2 separate regions of the Homo sapiens genome follow, and region 2 is linked to region 1. The links come from fine-mapping of genetic effects on gene expression. Tissue or cell type: whole blood. Region 1 holds a variant in brackets; the other region holds the start of a gene. All regions are shown on one strand. Distances are from middle to middle.

Evidence for each region. PIP is the estimated chance that this variant, and not a neighbour inherited with it, causes the effect.
Region 2: IRF2 starts here. The variant in region 1 is fine-mapped to the expression of IRF2 in whole blood (TOPMed, PIP above 0.99).

The regions. Positions count from the first base shown.
Region 1 is chr4:184,388,103-184,390,787 of GRCh38, forward strand. It overlaps IRF2 (interferon regulatory factor 2), which reads right to left. Exons shown (of 9, transcript NM_002199.4): 8 at 2,601-2,647; 9 at 1-964. The coding sequence ends at 656. Among named protein-coding and RNA genes, the nearest start is that of LINC02362, 7.1 kb to the left of the region's middle. RefSeq lists enhancers at 1,035-1,768, 1,769-2,502. The variant C/T (reference allele first, on the strand shown) is at 1,552.
Region 2 is chr4:184,473,255-184,475,939 of GRCh38, forward strand. IRF2 (interferon regulatory factor 2) reads right to left here and starts at 1,296. Exons shown (of 9, transcript NM_002199.4): 1 at 1,125-1,296. It overlaps IRF2-DT (IRF2 divergent transcript), which reads left to right and starts at 1,548. Exons shown (of 1, transcript NR_186573.1): 1 at 1,548-2,685. RefSeq lists silencers at 1-374, 455-504, 1,315-1,434 and enhancers at 1,465-1,654, 2,005-2,334.

The sequences.
Region 1 (2,685 bases):
TTTAAAGCAGTCTGAAAATGGGACATCTGTAGAGAAATTCATTTCCTTCTTCTCCTCCGGATGTGGAATGGAAGCTTTGAGGGAAGGAAAAGTAGGAAAAGAGCGGGATGGGATGGGATGGGATGGGATGGGATGGGATGGGATAGGAAGAGAGGCTGGGGAATGGGCAGAGAAGGGGGTGCTGAGTGTGCTGTGAGATAGAGCAAGATCACAAGAAGGCCTATCTGTAAGTGCTTTAAGATAAGGTGCAGAAGCAGACTGCAATGTCGCTAGTGCTGCCTATGTACATATTCACAAGAATAAAAAATTCCAGCTAGTTCACATTATCTCGTCCGTTCTGAGGCATCCACTCCACCTTGCTGGCCTTGACCGCAGGCAATGCAGCACCTCCACTGCCCTTGTTGGTCCTTGAACTTGAGTGAGTAGCCCTGGGAGATCCAGCAGGCTCTAGAAACACACGTCTACCAATGGGCTGGAGTCCTGAGTTAAAGAGAAGCTCCAGTACTGGAGTTGGACACAGCAATCAATGTTCTATTGTCAAGGCTTTTTCCCTTAGATTTGTCTAAAATAGGTGTCAGAGAGAAAAAAATAAAATACAAACAAACAACAAAACAAAGCCAAGAAGCCCCAACAACCACCGCGGAGAGTCAGAGGCTTAACAGCTCTTGACGCGGGCCTGGGTGATATCCGATGTTTTCTTGATGACGCTGGCCCGGGTCTCCCGGTCTGGCCGACTGCTGCTGGATGCTGGGGTCATGGAGGAAGAAAGGGGGAGGTCTTGAAAAGGGGGCCAGGAGCTGTTGTAAGGCACCGGATTGCTCTCCTCTTTGATGGTGACCTGGAGGTCCGGTTTGTTGGAAGTGACGAAGGACGCCATGCCGGGCAGCAGGTAGGAGCCTCGAGTCCCCATGTTGCTGAGGTACTGTTTGCCTTCAATATTCCTCTTCCGCCAGTGTGGCCGCCCCTTTCAAGAAAGTAATTAAGATATGTATTTCCTTCTCCTTCTATTGGATGGCTTTTTAAAAATGCATCACTGGCCAGGTGTGGTGGCTCATGCCTGTAATCCCAGCACTTTGGGAGGCTGAGGCTGGAGGATCACTTAACCTCAGGAGTTTGAGACCAGCCTGGGCAATGTAGCGAGTCCTCATCTCTACAAAACGTAAGAATTAGCTAGGCATGGTGGTGCACACCTTTAGCCCCAGCAACTCGGGAGGCTGAGGCGGGAGGATCACTGGAGCGCAGTAAGTCAAGGCCTCAGTCAGCTATGATTGCGCCACTGCACTCCAGCCAGGGCAACAGAATGAGACCTTGTCTCAAAACAACAACCCACAAAAAAAATTTTAAAATGAAAAATGTGTCGTTCCCATGTGTTGGTGCTTTAGCTGAGTTTCTTAAGAACTGCAGAATGAACAAAGGCTTAGCACCTCTACATCCCTCAACTGAAATCTATTGCACCCAGCTATTCATATGCCAAGTAATGGTTTTTCTTCCCTTTTCTTTTTTTTTAAAAAATCAATTCCCATTTGCTACCTCCCAGAAATACTTTCCAGA[C/T]TACTCTGTGAAGGCAGGAAAAGAAGGCAGCAGCTTGGTTTCTGGTTCCCTTGTGCTCTGCGGCTCGGCCCGATTATTCGATAGGTTTCAGGTCACCATGGCCAGTGTGGCACAGCGACTCGGTCCCTCAATGCTGGCCCAGTCAACCTGAGCCAACCTGCATTTTCAGAGAAAAGGCAGCGAGGAACTTAGTGACAGGCAATGAATGCCCCTTGATTGCTTTCAAATGGGGGCGGCTTAGAGCTCCACGGTGTACAGCAAGCAGCGGCCTCAGGGCTGGCTTCATTCAGAGAAGTGGCTAGAGCTGCAACCTTGAAGAAATCAGGCCAGGGTGTATGGGAGCGTGTACATCTGTCTTTTCAGAATCCCTGCACTTTTTCTCAAAGTGTTTAGTACATGGGAAACCACTAATTCAAACAACCATGAGCTTCCCTCTCTCTTGCTCCCTCCCTCTCTCTCTCTCATTCACTCAAGCGCAGACCCCCAGCAGGTGGCCAGCAGGAATGCTTTCCATCTCCATTCCAGCCACTTTCTGCCATTGTGCACGCCCCATCTATGGGAGGGAGAGGGGACGGGACCCACTCGGAATCGAGATGGGGCACACAACCAGCTCTGGGCACGGGTCACAGCGGGAGGGAACCCACGCACACGTGGAAGAGGCTTTTGCTTAGCATTTTGTGACGTGTACTGGTCACTGCTTTTGGCTGGGAAGGCTGCTCTATTTTTGCCGGTGAAGTAGGATGTTTAAGTGGTAAGAGCATCGGCATTTCCCAGCCTCCACTTCAATTCCCTTTTCCTGCTATCACAGCTTCTCTACCTGATGGTAACATTTAACTCCCTTTCCTCCTTTCAGTTCCAACGCCGAATTTTATAACCCCAAACCCAAAAGTATGGTAAATTCTGGTGATGCATATTTCACCACACAAGAAAATCCCAAAGTGAAGCTTGTGATCTAAAGGAAAGGTGCATAACCAGCAGCAAGGAAAGCCCGGAGCTGGTCGGGAGGCTTTTCCTTGGCAGCATCGTGGGCAGGCTGGGCAGTGGCTTACCTCGGCACTCTCTTCATCGCTGGGCACACTATCAGTCGTTTCGCTTTCTGTTCACAGAGAGAAAAACACAGGGCCATCATTCCTG
Region 2 (2,685 bases), 85 kb after region 1:
CGGCCCGCGCCCCGGGACCCCGAGGGGACGCCGGCCCCCACTGCGCCGCTCGGTCCCCGGAGGCTCCCCGCCCCCACCTCGCCCGCTCCGTAGCCGAGGCGGGTCAGGCCCAGCGCGCGAGGCCGGCCGGGGGCGCCTGCGGGGACCCGGGGGCGCACGGCGCTAGGCCGCGGCCCGGGCGGCTGACCCCTCGGCACGGTGCCTTCCTGGGACGCGCCGCCCGAGCCCCTGGCGCGCTGGGACAAGTGCAATGACAAAGCCCCAGGGCCCGACCGGGCGCTGGCCGGCGGGAAGGAGGACGCGGCGTCCCTTCTGAGCGGCGGCGGCGGCGGCCCAGCCCCCAGGAAGCAGGGCGCGTCGGCCAGGCCCGGCGCCCGGCCCGGCTCCGAGCCCGCCCTCCCGCCCCGGCCGCTGGCACCCGACGCCCGCGACCCGACCCCGAGCCCGGCAGGCAGGCGAGCCCCTGGACCGCCGCGGGGCGCCCCAGCAAGTTTCCTCTGGCCGTGGCTGGAGGCGCTCCTCCCGGCCGGGGAGCGGTGCCTGCTTATTTACGCTGGAGGCAGCCTGGAGAGGCGCCGCCGCGGGCACCGAGAAGGACCCGCTCCCCTCCTTCGGATCCGGTGGCGGCGGTGGCTGCACACACACACACGCGCGCACACACAAACACGCACATACACACAATTTTGTTTTAAATGAGGCCCGACTCCAGCTGACCTGCACCCCCACACACAACACCTGGGGCGCAGAAGCACACACAGCAGGTCTGTGTCCATGGAGCCACCTCTCCGCATCTGCAAATCCAAAAGTGAAATTAAACCTCCACCAACCTCCTCCTCCTCCTCCCTCTCTACCTCCTCCTCCTCCTCCTCCTCGCAGCCTCAGCAGCCCCAGTAGCAGCAGCAACAGCAGCAGAACCTGCTTCCCCTAAAATCAGATGATCCATAATTGCGCCGACTGTTCCTCCAAAAATCAGTATTAATATTTATGAACCCCGGCATTTTCCGTCTGCAAAACATCGTGTCAAGGCATCAGGACACGCATACACACACGGCCCCCCACAGTCCCCAGAAACATGCCCTCGAGAGAAACACACACAGTCACAACTATTATTTGAAAAATGTTACCTCTCAGTGTGCTTTTTTCACGCTACCAATACAATTCCGCAAGGTATAAGTGTTGCTAGGGTATGTGAAATGGAAATGAAAGCCCGTCAGTTGAATAATCGCAGGAGCAAAACTAAAAGTTACTCCCCGGCTTGCCTGAGAACAGTCCAGATCGAAAGCAAAACAAGGAGAGGAAACTGCGAAGAGCCGCGGCTGGAAATCCCCCCACCCCCCGCCCTCCTCCGGCCGCGCTCCCTCCCTCGCCTCCCCTCTCCGCCCTCCTCCCTCCGCCCTTCCTCCCCAGTGTTTGTTTCAAGCTTGTGCAACCGGGAGGTGGAGGCGGAGGGAGGGCGCGAGCGGCCCGGCCGGGAGGTGCGGAAGTTCGCCGCAGCAGCTCATTGGCGGGCAGCGCCGCTTTCATCATTTCTCGGAAAAGTCAATTTCATTTTCGCTTCCCCAGGTCGCGGCGGCGGGAGCAACAAGCAGCGGCTCGTGAGTCCGCGGCTCGCACCCAGGGGCGCCCGCACGTGCGGCTAGAACGTCCGAGTCGGGGTCCGGGGCGGGGGGCGCAGGCCCGCGGCGGTAGGGGAGGAGAGCGGGCACCCGAGTCTCCATCCTCAGGGTGGCCTGAAGGTTCCAGGAGGGCGTCCGGCGAAGGCACGGGGCTGCGACCATCCAGTTAGCAGGGCTGGTGTGACTGTTGAGAGTAAATGAAAATTCGTTTTGTGACACCGACCACCTCCAAGGAATGAAAGGAGCAGTCAGCCGAAACGACAGCATTACTTGCGTCCTTACCTAATTGGAACCTTATCCGTGGCTGAGGGTGCCACCATTGGAGGGGCCGCCGCCCCCTCTGACACCACCTGGCGCTCCGCTCCATTTAGGAGCTAGAACGAAAAGGAGGCCCATCCCCCAGTAAGTCACAGCCCACGCCAAGATGAGTTCTGGAGCCTGTGCGACCGAAGTTTCTTCACCGCAGGGCGAGGTGGACAAGGGTGTGAGTTACTTTGACTTCAAGACGTCTCAGTGGCGGCTGGTTCTGGAGAGAGGCTTTATGCTGGAGCACTTCCAGCAAAGTTCGGCTGGGGCCTCCTTAACTCACTGGCTGGTCACCCTTGGCCTCGGTTTTCAACCAAAGCCTAAGGCCTCAGTTTTCAACGCTGTAAATGGAAATAAATGAGAGAAGAAAGTACAGCCCGTGTGACAAGTGCAGCAAGCAATGCAACTTCCTTGGGACCTACCCTTTGTGGTCCCTTGCTTTAAAAGTATAGATTCACATTTAGTTAGACCTGTTTCTTCCTCGCATGCAATTTCACCAGTCTTTTCCCAGACTTCTGTACTCAACAGAGGAAGTTCCTTCCTGGGAGACCATAGCTGTTTGTATGTAAAGAGTTGCGAAAAAACAAAAGCAAAACAAAAAACTCCAACACCTCTCTGTCACAGAAGTATTGAATTATATAGACTGGAAAAATGGAAGTATCCAAGAAAACGCGTGTGGTAAGAAAATGGCTAAGGTGCAGGATTCTGTTTTGTGGCTCTGGTCTCAGAAATAGACCTCACATACACATTATTCCTTATCCCC